Homo sapiens: one gene and its partners. The protein of the gene in region 3 interacts with the protein of the main gene of each other region in a biochemical or structural test. Each region holds a gene or a part of one and is shown on either strand. Other genes may lie near its edges.

Region 1 (3,500 bases), on a different chromosome or scaffold from region 3:
TAAAAAGAGTACTTTGTGTACTGATATTATTTAAATGATCAACATTTTGATCACCTACCTTTTTTCTTAAGAATATAGTTAATTCAGCTTGTAACTAGTATTTTCCATTGTACATATTTTGAAATTGTATGAAAGGACAGCAAAAAAATATTAGCTTAAATAATTAAAATAATGGAATTTAGTGACTTGTTAGTTTACCTTACAATTAAAATGGAACTTTATTTTGTTTATCAGTATTTAGGCTATACTTTGAATAATTACAATTATAAGAAAGTTCTTCTAAAGTCAAAAGCAGTTGTCTATAATCTATCCTGCCATCAGGCTAAGTATATTTTGTGATTTAGAAACTGCATGTAGCTGCCAGCATTCCCATATGCGCATGCATGCTCTTGCCTTTTTTTTTTTTTCAAAGTTGAGCATTAAAATATACTTAGAACTCTATAGTTGGAAAAAAGAAATGGTTAAATGTGGAAGCCACTTATTTAATATGTTCTTTTAAGAGAGAAACAAGGTTTTATAAAAAGCATGAGAAATATATAAATTTAAGCAAATCACTTATGATCTAAAGATAGCACAAGTGAAGGCCTCACTTCTAGGATGTTGCAAGCAAGGTACCAATGCTGCCAGACCCAAGAAGAGTTTTAGCAGGAAAGGTTACACTTGGTTTGATTTTTAAAGCCAAAGCAAGAATTATGAGTCTTAAACCAAATATACTAACTTGGGCCATGGGGCAGAGTAACTTGGATAAAGACGGTATCATTGCCTGTGAAAGGAAACAAGAAAAAGTAGATTTTTTTCTTTCATTGATATATTCAACTCATCTGCAAAAATTTGTATTATGATGAAAATGTTATTGTCATTGTCGTTTTAAAGAATGCTGTAACAGTTTATAGTAAAACCTCATTACTACTTACTTTTGAGAAGAAAAAAATGATATCATATTGGGAATTTAAGATTCCTTTTAGCTTTACTTGATTTCATAATTATTAAATGAAAAACATTCATAAAAAAATCGTATATTACTGAAAGACTTTTTAAAATGTAGAAACCCAATTCAAGCAAAAAGTTCAGCTGGATGTATATAAATATGCCATTTAGTAAATATTATTTTGAAAACTCAAACTTGTGAAACAAGTAATAAGTTTATTTTATGTAAGTTGAAAAATAAAAAAGTTACTAATTATATGTCTTTCAAAAATGTTCTTGGGGCATATATTCTCATCACAAAATAACTAGCACTTTGGATATAAAACAAGCTTGAAATTGATACAGGGTTTTTCCTTTTATAGTCATAAACATTTTTTTTAAAGTCATTAAACATTTGGTGCCTAGACTCATTTTACATAGGAAATTCTGATAAATTTAAATTTAGAAAGTCTAATTTCAACAATATTAATTATTTTAAGGAAAAAACTGAAAATCAAAAGCGAAAGCCCCAAGAGCATTAAAGTAGGAAAATTGAGACAAAAAGCTAGGTGATCTATACTGATTCTAAATCAATATAGTTGTTTGTTTGTACAGTGTCTCATATTAACAACAGATGGAACAGATAACGTTATAACATCCAAGAGACTAAAATAATACTAGACTGTGGTAATTTTTTTTAAATTCAGATTTCGTTTTTTTTTTTTTGCACAATAGGCAATCCCTCACATAATTTGGAATATTAAGTTTATTCAAGCATATTTGGTCAGAAGGAGGGTGATCTCACATTCCAGATTTCTAGGCAGCCCTAATTTCAAATAATCTGTCCCATTATCTGATTTCCGTATGTACTGATATTTATTTGGAACCTATGATTCCTAAGTGTAGCAATCCAGCTAATTCTAATATTACCTTTCAGAAGATTAAAATTCATTTTTCTACTCTGAAATTACATGAAGCTGTTGCTCTGCCGATGATTTTCTTCCCTATTAGCCACCTATAATTGAAGATTGCCTGGTTGTAAAAGGGAGCCAGAGATCTGACGTAATAGAGATTAAAGGAGTATCTAGCTCTAGCGTTTACCCTACTTATATATGTCCCACTTTTCCTGGAAAAGAAATAAACATATCTCCTGGAGATATGCCTCAAGAACATGATAGTACACTTAATACAATACAGGAATAGGAGTAAAATCAAAACACAAGCTCATGACTGTTACAACTATAGTCTTTAATTGTACATATGCATGCACACTTGTGTACACAGATGTAAACTTGGCTTTGAGTATATTTATATATAGCACAGGCTTAGACTCATGCATTTGGTAAATTTGGGGCACTAGTTGTCTTATTGCCTGGAAAATACTATAGAAATTCTTTTAGAATTTTACATGCACTAATCAAGAAATATATGCTAGAAATTCTTGTCAGTTAGATACTGAGTAAATTTACTGATAATGACTTAGAAGTGAAATCTAATTAATTTAAAAAACAGTATTAATTTATTAAGCATAATCCCAGATGACAGACAAATGGTCCTCAATCTTGGCTGTACATTAGAATCCTATGGGAAGTTTTTAAAAAATACTGATACCAGGTACCAATGCCAGTCTAGTGTGGGCTGGGCCTACATATTTTTTTTAAGCTCCTCAACAGATGATACTATACAGTCAGGGTTGAAACCACTCTTAAAGATACTCCCCAGTTTATAAAGGAGTCATTCTTGATAGAAACAAGCATTTTTCTATAGAAAAAAAAAAAAAGATATGATAGATAACTTCTTAAACTCACAAAAGCCTGGTAAATGCAAATATATTTGGGATTAGAAACTCATCACCTACAGCAATCTTCCAGGAGGAAAAGCCTTGCGTTATCAGCTTGACATACTTGTAATACATTCTTTTTGTTGTTAAAGAGTCCCCTAAGGGATGGAAATGGAGAAGTCAGACCTCTGACTCCCTTTTATGACCAGGCAATCTTCAAACAGGAAGGTAAAAAGAGCATTTCATCATTTTCTCCTCTCTATTATAGCAGCAGAAACAAGTAGTGAGCCAGTGGTCTTTTCTCTTTTCTCAGCAACTGTCGTCATCACCTCAAAGGTGGACCTGGCCAGGGCAAGGTGTGGAGCAGGGCTTTGAATGTATGTGTGGCAGCACTAAGTACGTGGCCACTTCTCTGCCCTGTCTTTGCCACAACGCTTTCCATGACCACTCTTGCTCATTCTGAGGTCATCTTTCTATAAGCTTCTCCAGTATTTATGTCTTTACCACTATTTTTAGCGTTTAACTGTGAATCTCTTTGCACTATGATTATTTTTAATCTCTCAGTAAGACTGCAAGCTTTCCCAGTGAAGACGTGTAAGTGTTTAGCAAGGAATAAGATATGCAGCAGATACTGGCTGAAATAATTAATTATAGGTTTTTAAAAGTAGATTATTTTGGGAAAAAACCGTAAGAGTAAAAAAAGAATAGTATAGTATTATAACTGATAAAAAAAAATTCTAGTCAAACTCTGCCTTTTGAAAAACTTAAACAATGGAACTTTGTACTGCTTTGAGTGGAATATGTTGGGATGACA
Region 2 (3,500 bases), on a different chromosome or scaffold from region 3:
CGTTCAAACCAAGAGAATGGGCTTTCCAGAAAGCGGGGGGATTAGAACAGACACATTTCTGGCTTGAGAGGCCCCTGAGTCACTCTGCCTTAGAAGTAAGGCGCTGGCCTAACCAACCCATGAAGACCCCTCCAGCCTTTCACTTTAGGGCTTGGTGTGAGTGCTTTGCTTTCATCTTCAAACATACACAGTGAATAATAGATTTTGAATGTTTGCTGGGTGAAGCATCCCTCCTATAAGCTCCATAATCCTCATCGTGGTACAGTTTGATGATTAATGTCTGTACTCCTAACTAGAACAGATTTCAAGAGGGCAGGCACTGTTGGTCTCGTTCACCACTACATACACAGCCTAGAACAGCTGCTGTGCAAAGCAGGTGTCAATACATGTCACCAAGCAAATGAATTCACACGATAAAAAGTTCAGGATCATGACACTCAAGAAGTGACTCTGAAAGGCATGAGAAAACAGGCAACCGCACAAACAGGGCTGGAATACCAGGCTCCCTGAAGCACTGTGTACACTGCATTCCTTCCATCAATACATACTGAGCACCCATGATGTGCCAGGTGCCCCTAATTCCTGGGACCATGGGGGAAAACAGAAAGACAGGCCAGGCATGGTAGCTCACGCCTGTAATCCTAGCACTTTGGAAAGCCAAGGCGGGTGGATTGCCTGAGCTCAGGGTTTCAAGACCAGCCTGGGCAACACAGTGAAACCCCATCTCTACTAAAATACAAAAAATTAGCCCGGTGTGGCGATGTGCACCTATAGCCCAGCTACTCCGGAGGCTGAGGCAGGAGAATTGCTTGAACCTGGGAAGCGGAGGTTGCAGTGGGCCAAGATCACGCCACTGCACTCCAGCCTGGGCGAGAAAGTGAGACTCTGTCTCAAAAAAAAAAAAAAAGGCAGAAAAACAAGTTCCCCACCCTCATAGGCCTAAATTCTAGAAGAAGGAAATAAACAGTAAATAAATAAAAATGGGTAGGTATAGAACACGTCAGGGGGTAGGAGGTGCTGCTGAGAGAAATAACTTAGGAAATGAGGACTGGAGAGGACCTGGGGAGGGTGAGAGGTGCTACTCTTGAGAGAGGGATTAGGGGAGGCAATTCAACAGAGGCTGGAAGGAAATGATGGAAATTAGTGGGAGAACAGGGTGGAGACCTGAAGAAAGGGCACTCCAAGCAGAAGGAACCGCAAGTGAGGCAGAATGGGCTTGGTGTGTTCAAGGAACAGCAAGGAGGCCAGTATGGCTGAAAGAGAAGAAACAAGCAGGATTATAGAAGGAGAGGAGGCCAGATAGGGTCAGAGGGCCAGGTGATGTGAGACACAAGGCTGCCAGAGCAGAGGAATGATGCAGCAGGAACTGCATTGTAAAGGGGATCATTGGGGCCACTGCGGAAGGTTGAAAGGGAGGAAGAGCGGAATCAGGAAGTCAGGGCCAGGCGCAGTGGCTCACGCCTGTAATCCCAGCACTTTGGGAGGCCGAGGCTAGCAGATCACGTAAGGTCAGGAGTTCGAGACCAGCCTGGCCAACATGGTGAAACCCTGTCTCTACTAAAAATACAAAAATTAGCTGGGCGTGGCAGCACGTGCCTGTAAGCAGCCCAGGTAGGAAGTCATCAGCGTGTGGGTGGTATTTTCAGTTACGAGACAAGATGAGGTCACTAACGGGGCAAATGTGGAAAAAGGACGAGATGCTCCGAGGACTGAGGACTAGGGATGCCATGGCTCAGGCGGATCAGGAGGACCCAACAGAGAAGACCAGAAGGCACAGAGAAGAAAAGGGGCAAGGTGTGGGGTCCCCGAGCAAAGCATTTCAAGAGCATCACTGCCCACAGGCAGCACACCAGCACAGGGCGATGGCACCAGCCAGATCCGAGCTTAAACCTCACTTACCAACTGTGCAATCTTGGGCAAGTCACCTCTCGCTCTGAGCCTCAGTTTCCCCACCTGTCTAACAGGGGTGCTGGTAGTACTTGACTCATTGGGTGTTTGGGGAATTAATAAGTTTAGCTCAGTGCCTGGTACAGAGTGAGTGCTCACAGATTGTGGGGCTGCAGCTGTTAGCACCTGGGAGACTCCTGCCCAGGTTCCAAGACCACAGACTCAGGTTCAATCCTAGTACCAGCCAGCGAGATTCATGGAAAGAAAATCTGTGTGGTACTGGCACCGCTGCAACTAGGAATCCTGATCTCTCCCGCCCCAACCTCACCCAGACCAGCCAACTTCTCACATCCTTAGTCACGAGAGCAGAGCTTCCTGAACTGTGGGAATGGAGATGATTTTAGATGGTAAAGGGACACCCCATAAAATGAGTGAATCACAGAGTGAGCACGTCAGCCCATTACAGCTGTCTTCCAGCTCTTCTAGGTGCGTCAAGAGAAAGTCCCACGTTGATGCTACCATGTTTGTAATACCTTCTAGCACGCTACAAAGAGAAAGCAGGCCCTAGGCTCATCACCTCAACCACACCAAGCTGCATTTCAGTGATAGGGCTGGAGCTTCTTCAGTTTCACTGAAGTGGTGTTTGTGATCACCTTCTATTTATGGCAAAGGATACAGATTTTCCATTTCTAGAGGAGATACGAAGTTTTCTTTCTACACAAATTTGTGGAAGTAAAAATATAAAAGAGATGATTTAAAGAAAATGTCAAGAATGCCAGGCACGGGGGCATGCACCTGCAATTCCAGCTACTCGGGAGGCTGAAGTGGGAGCTCGAGGCCAGCCTGGGCAATATAGTGAGACCCTGTGTCTAATAAATAAATAAATAAAATGCCAAGTGCATGTGAATTAAGTGGCTTAAGGTGTGGAGGTGGTGGTGGAAGAGGCATTAAGGAAGATATCCGCAGGCAGTTCTTGAATGCCTGAAGCTTGTGAAACACTCCTTTTCAAGAACCCAGGGAAGCCTGTAACCCTAGCACTTTGGGAGGCCAAGACAGGAGGATCGCTTGAGCCCAAGAGTTCAGTGAGTTATGATCGGGCCAGTGCATACCAGCTCTTCAGGCTGGAATGAGCTATGATCAATTCTAAGCTGCAGTGAGCTATAATCACGCCACTACATTCCAGCCCTCCAGCCTGGGTGACAGAGCAAGACCCTGTCTCTTAAAAAACAACAATAACAACAACAAAAAGCAAGAACCCAGGGTATATGGCCTAAGGCAGCCATCCCACCCCTGAAGAAGCAAGTCAGAGTCCCAGCCACCTGCCAAGACTCAAGAATGTTCTACAGGGAGCAGGGATAGGGAGAAGGAGCTGGGCGGCAGCCAGGACTCCCAGTCCATGTGGGGCCCTGCCCCCACCCCAGGTGATAGGCAGGGGCAACTTTGGGCCTCACCCACCTGGGTGGGACAGGCAAGCTTGTCTGGGGGACTGCCAAGGAGGGTGTTAGCCTTTCACCCCTCTGCCAAGTCCCCATGTGCCCAGTGACCTCCAATGCAACCCCCACCCTCCTAGAGCTTTCACCACTCAGGGCTACACCAAAAGAGCCCAGCTGGGA
Region 3 (3,500 bases):
AAATGTACGTGCAGCTATTCCTGCAACAGTGCTGAGGGTAAAGTGATAGTGGAAACACAATATTCCTTGTAGGAGTCCCCATGTAAGCGCCCTCCGAGAGACTGCTTTCTCACATGCAACGCGGGGAATGGGAAAAGACAACTTGAAGATGAAAAAACAAACAACTTTTAAAATTTAACCTATTGCTTTCTACTTGGGAAACAAAAATATTATAGAATCTTCGGACAAACATGTGGAACTAATAATAACAACAGTAGAACAATAGCAATAGAACCTATACAGCCAAGCCCTACCATTAAGGGCTGGCAAAGAAAACATACTCTATAAGTGATTTTGTACATATTAGTTTTACCCCTTTCCACTTTCCTGCTCTGGGCCTATCCACTCCCTCCAGCATCCAAATGGTTAGTAGGTAGTTAGAATTAAGGTTACCTGAGTAATGTTGTACAAGCTGCTGAAGTGTTTCAAACTGGGCCCGGGTGGTAATGTAGTATCCACCATTGTCAAGTTTGCGAATTTTATAATGTTTGACATGGTCTCCTTTCATATCATCCCAATCACGGATAGAAAGTGAATAGGCACCTGGTAAACGTGGAAAGCATTAGCAGCTCCAATCATTTAGAGTATCAGCTTGCTTTTTAGGCCTCATTTTCTTGACTCTGATTAATAATTACCAAGGATGCACACACACATGTACACACACACAGCATCTCCACTCAGTAACAGGAAGAAGATGCTTCTTGATGTTCTGCAAATGTCAGAATATATTAGCAATAAAATGATTCTGCCCTTGAGACTGAAAGCTTCCTGGACATTTTTCTTAAACACACTGTTCGGTACCCCTTGTTGCATAATACAGCGTAGACTCAATTCCAACACTCCTTTCCCCCAAGGGTAAAGAAGGACCACGATGAATGGCTGAGCTTGCTTCCCTTGTCTTCTCTACCCAGGGGCATACTGGGAGGTAGCAGCAGCATGTGCAAAAGAAATCTAAGGCTTGTTTCTCTAGAAGTGAGCTTCAAGCTTCTGCTTTACAACACTTTTTACAGGAATGGATAATCTGGCAAATTAAGCTAGAGGCCACTACTCTTTTCTTCCTTGACCTGTCTCCTCTTGTGGGTTGTAAGGAGTTGTTAAATAATGAAAAGTCCAACAGTTGGAGGAAGAGAAGTGAAGTCCTCAGTTATTTAAAAAACAAAAGGAAAGCAAAAACAACCTGTATGACTGGCACCTGAGGAACTAAGATTTCAGAAAATCAAAATTCTAAAGGACTTCTGAAAATTCTACGATCTTGTGTGCCTGGAGCAGTGTAGCTGCATCCAGCCCGTTTCAGGAGGAAGGTCTTGATTTGGGGCCTCTGTAGTTCTTTTGGTGCTGTCTGCAGTTTTAGAGCCTGGAGGGAAGACTGAAAACAGGACTCCACTCACAAGGCAGGGAGGGTATGTGCCATTTTAAAATCCTTGTACATTAGAGATAAGCCTTTCATCCCCTCTGACTAATCCACAGATTTGAATGACAAGCCAACTTCTTCAACTCGTTATCTTACCTTTGGTGGTTTCACTCTCGCGGATAAGAAAGGTACCTCTTGGGTTTCCAAAGGACAATAGCTGTCGCTCAGCATCTTTTCGGCCAAGTTTTCCAAAGTACCACCTTTAAATTAGATCAAGGAAAGAAAATATTTTGAAATAGTCATTTACAAAATGCAACAGCATAGGCTTTTTTTTTGCCCATGAATTCCCCTCTCCTCCAATTTAGTCCTTAACCTTTCCCTGGATGTATTTTTTTTCTAGCTTAATTCAGTTCCTTTTCAATCTATCCTGGATTCTATCCCTAATTCATCTCTTTCACTCTTTAAAAAAAATCAGATTTGAGTTGTGGGTTGTTTTCCTCCCCTCTAGACATGACCAGAACTGGTTTGTGTTAAAACTGCCACCTGTATGCAAAAAACCAGAAATCTAAGACCTTGATTTGAAATGGTTACTGCAGGAGACCCTTTCCACACTTATCTAAAAGACTCTAGTCTGGGCATGGTGGCTCATACCTGTAATCCCAGCACTTTGGGAGGCCGAGGTGGGCAGATCACCTGAGGTCAGGAGTTTGAGATCAGCCTGGCCAACATGGTGAAACCCCAGCTCTACTAAAAATACAAAAATTAGCTTGGTGTGGTGGTGGGCACCTGTAATCCCAGGTACTCGGGAGGCTGAGGCAGGAGAATCACTTGAACCTGGGAGGCCCAGGCTGCAGTGAGCTGAGATTGTGCCATAGTATTCCAGCCTGGGTGACAGAGCAAAGCCGTGTCTCAAAACAAAACAAAACAAAAAAAACAAACGCCAGGCATGGTGGCTCATGCCTGTAATCCTAGCACTTTGGGAGGCCAAGGTGGGTGGATCATGAAGTCAGGAGATGGAGACAATGCTGGCTATCATGGTGAAACCCCATCTCCACTAAAAATACAAAAAATTAGCTGGGTGTGGTGGCATGCACCTGTAATCCCAGCTACTCAGGAGGCTGAGGCAGGAGAATTGCTTGAATCTGGAAGGTGGAGGTTGCAGTGAGCCAGGATTGCGCCACTGCACTCCAGCCTGGGCAACAGAGCGAGACTCTGTCTCATAACAAAAAATAAACAAAAAAACAAAACTCTTGAATCTCTTGATATCTAAGCATTATTGTAACTGCTGGGAAATAACAAAACACAGTCTTAATGTATATGAAGATAATCAAGCATTAAAAAAAGTCAGATTAGATAGATATGATATGAATAAAGGAATAGTATTTTCAATAACTTCCTCCCTATAAGAATTCTGAGAAAAACGCCCATGAGTACTTACTTGTATTTTGTTTTCCTCCCCTAGGTGTGTGAGGACTTGGATAAGTAAAGGCATTTATTTACCAAGCACCTGGATTGTGATCTGTGTTCATCATCTTCTTCTTCTTTTTTTTTTTTTTTTCTTGAGACAGGGTCTCACTCTGTCACCCAGGCTGGAGTGCAGTGGCATAATCATAGCTCACTGCAGCCTTGACCTCTCCAGGCTCAAGCAATCTTCCTACCTCAGCCTCCTGGGACTAAAGGTGCACATCACCACACCTGCTAACTAAAAAAATTTTTTTTGTAGAGGCTAAGAGTGGTGGCTCATGATTGTAATTCCAGCACTTTGGGAGGCTGAGGCAGGCAGATCACCTGAGGTCTGGAGTTCGAGGCCACCCTGGCCAACATGGTGAAATCCCAACTCTACTGAAAATACAAAAATTAGCTGGGCATGGTGGCATGTGCCTGTAATCTCAGCTATTCGGGAGGCTGGGGCACGAGAATTGCTTGAACCAGGGATGTGGAGGTTGCAGTGAGCTGAGACAGGGCCACTGCACTCTAGCCTGGGGACAGAGTGAGACTGTCTCCCTATGTTGCCCAGCATGGTCTCAAACTCCTGGGCTCAAGTGATCCTCTCGCCCTGGCCTCCCAAGTGCTGGGATTACAGGAGGGAGCCATCACGGTGGACCCTGTA
Region 4 (2,776 bases), on a different chromosome or scaffold from region 3:
CACACAGGGTGCCCTGATGGGACTGCCCTGCAGAAGTCACACTGACCTGGTGACTTCTCAGTTTGTAAGCATTTTTAACTTACAGCCTTCGATGTAGCTACATGTAGGAAAGAATTATGTACCTGTAGAATTACCTGTGTGGGGGTGCTGGAGCTTATTTCCCTTCACTGGGAGCTGGTCGTGCTGACATTTATATTGTAAGCTGAGTTTCACTTCCTAGAGTCATAAATCACAGTTTGGTTATCACACATTTGCACTTTGGTTATCACACAGAGACATTTTCTACCAGACACTGCCACTGTTGACCTACAACATGTAGGTCATGTACTTTGAACAGCATGTACTTTGTAGAAGTGAACAGTCCTGGAATGTGTCCATCTTGGTGAGTATAGGCCTTAAAGATTCACAGTACATACGGTCTCTTTTGTAGATGAAGTGCGCACAGGAACCTATAGGCAGCTCTTCCACCCAGAGCAGCTGATCACCGGGAAGGAAGATGCGGCCAATAATTACGCCAGAGGCCATTACACCATCGGCAAGGAGATCGTCGACCTGGTCCTGGACCGGATCCGCAAACTGGTAAGAAGAGAAGGCTTCATGTGACCATTGTCCTGCACAGGAGGGTAGATCTTAGATTGTGAAGGGGAGGTCATTTTGTCAAAACCTAGACCAGTGCGTTGGCTGGGTCTGGTGGCTCACGCCTGTAATCCCAACACTTTGGGAGGCCAAGGTGGGCAGTCACCTGAAGTCAAGAGTTTGAGACCAGCCTGGCCAACGTGGTGAAACCCTGTCTTTACTAAAAATACACACATTAGTCAGGCGTGGTGGTGCCTGCCTGTAGTCCCAGCTACTCAGGAAGCTGAGGCAGGAGAATGGCTTGAGCCCGGGAGGCAGAGGTTGCACTGAGCGGAGTTCATGCCACTGCCCTCCGGCCTGGGCAACAGAGTGAGATTCTATCTAAAAAAAAAAAAAAAAAAACAACTTAGAACAGTATCTTGAGTCCTATTGCGTCTGCAATGGTCTTAGTCTGAAGTATGCATGGTGATTTGTCTGTAGATCTTTGTCTGCTTTTCTTTGCTTCAGAGTGTACTGCGTGTTTATTATGGATGATTGGAATCCATATCAAGTCTTCAGAGGCAGAGAAGTGGCCCTGGCTTGGTGGAGGTTGGTGGTGTGGCTTCCACGGGCATTGATTCATGTTGTCTGGTTTCCCTCAGGCGGATCTGTGCACGGGACTGCAGGGCTTCCTCATCTTCCACAGTTTTGGGGGTGGCACTGGCTCTGGGTTCGCATCTCTGCTCATGGAGCGGCTCTCAGTGGATTACGGCAAGAAGTCCAAGCTAGAATTTGCCATTTACCCAGCCCCCCAGGTCTCCACGGCCGTGGTGGAGCCCTACAACTCCATCCTGACCACCCACACGACCCTGGAACATTCTGACTGTGCCTTCATGGTCGACAATGAAGCCATCTATGACATATGTCGGCGCAACCTGGACATCGAGCGTCCCACGTACACCAACCTCAATCGCCTGATTGGGCAGATCGTGTCCTCCATCACGGCCTCCCTGCGATTTGACGGGGCCCTGAATGTGGACTTGACGGAATTCCAGACCAACCTAGTGCCGTACCCCCGCATCCACTTCCCCCTGGCCACCTACGCCCCGGTCATCTCAGCCGAGAAGGCCTACCACGAGCAGCTGTCCGTGGCTGAGATCACCAATGCCTGCTTCGAGCCAGCCAATCAGATGGTCAAGTGTGACCCTCGCCACGGCAAGTACATGGCCTGCTGCATGTTGTACAGGGGGGATGTGGTCCCGAAAGATGTCAACGCGGCCATCGCCACCATCAAGACCAAGCGCACCATCCAGTTTGTAGATTGGTGCCCAACTGGATTTAAGGTATGACTGGGTAATGTGGAGTCCTTGTACCTTTCAGCAAGCAACAGACACACAGAGTAATGCTGCCCCTGAAGGCCCACATCCTTTGAGGATACTACCCCTATTCCATGGGCTAGGCATGTGGGCATCAATTAGTGAACCAGAGTGATCATTAATTCAGTGATGTCTTTTTTTTTTTTTTTTTTTTTTTTTTTTTTTTTTGAGGCAGAGTCTAGCTTTGTCGCCCAGGCTGGAGTAAAGTGGTGTGATCTCAGCTCACTGCAATCTCCATCAGCCTCCCAAGTAGCTGGAATTACAGGCACCCACCACCACACCCAGTTAATTTTTATATTTTTAGTAGAAACAGGGTTATGCCATGTTGGCCAGGCTGGTCTTGAACTCCTGACCTCAGGTGAGCCACCCACCTTGGCCACCCAAAGTGCTGGGGTTAGAGGCGTGAGCCACTGTGCCTGGCCCAGTGATGTCTTTTGAACTCTTTCTAAGTCATTACACTATGTATCTGTGATGAGCTTTACTTACTTACTTTGTTGTTGAGAAGGCTGGAGTGCAGTGGTGTGATCTCGGTTCACTGCAACCTCTGCTTCCCAGGCTCAAGTGATTCTCTCACCTCAGCCTCCTGAGTAGCTGGGACCACAGACATGCACCACTACACCCAGCTAATTTTTGTGTATTTAGTAAAGGGATTTCACCATGTTGGCCAAGCTGGTCTCAAATTCCTGGTCTTAAGTGATCTGCTTGTCTTAGCCTCCCAAAATGTTGGGATTACGGGCATGAGCCACTGTGCTCAACCCTATTTATTTACTTTTTTGAGACAGAATCCCACCTGTCACCCAGGCTGGAGTGCAGTGTGGTGATCACAGCTCTCCACTAAAAATACA

What was found.
Region 1: the proteins of FYN (region 3) and SOS1 form a complex in vitro, tested with the Homo sapiens proteins (one study listed by BioGRID).
Region 2: the proteins of FYN (region 3) and HTR6 form a complex in vitro, tested with the Homo sapiens proteins (one study listed by IntAct).
Region 4: the proteins of FYN (region 3) and TUBA3C form a complex in vitro, tested with the Homo sapiens proteins (one study listed by BioGRID).

The regions. Positions count from the first base shown.
Region 1 is NC_000002.12:38,988,552-38,992,051, forward strand, and holds part of SOS1 (son of sevenless homolog 1), read right to left. Parts: intron 764-3,500; coding exon 719-763; intron 1-718.
Region 2 is NC_000001.11:19,667,875-19,671,374, reverse strand, and holds part of HTR6 (5-hydroxytryptamine receptor 6), read right to left. Parts: intron 1-3,500. UniProt on the Homo sapiens protein: G-protein coupled receptor for 5-hydroxytryptamine (serotonin), a biogenic hormone that functions as a neurotransmitter, a hormone and a mitogen. Also has a high affinity for tricyclic psychotropic drugs.
Region 3 is NC_000006.12:111,702,453-111,705,952, forward strand, and holds part of FYN (tyrosine-protein kinase Fyn), read right to left. Parts: intron 1,651-3,500; coding exon 1,547-1,650; intron 583-1,546; coding exon 433-582; intron 1-432. UniProt on the Homo sapiens protein: Non-receptor tyrosine-protein kinase that plays a role in many biological processes including regulation of cell growth and survival, cell adhesion, integrin-mediated signaling, cytoskeletal remodeling, cell motility, immune response and axon guidance.
Region 4 is NC_000013.11:19,176,049-19,178,824, reverse strand, and holds part of TUBA3C (tubulin alpha-3C chain), read left to right. Parts: intron 1-430; coding exon 431-579; intron 580-1,217; coding exon 1,218-1,898; intron 1,899-2,776. UniProt on the Homo sapiens protein: Tubulin is the major constituent of microtubules, a cylinder consisting of laterally associated linear protofilaments composed of alpha- and beta-tubulin heterodimers.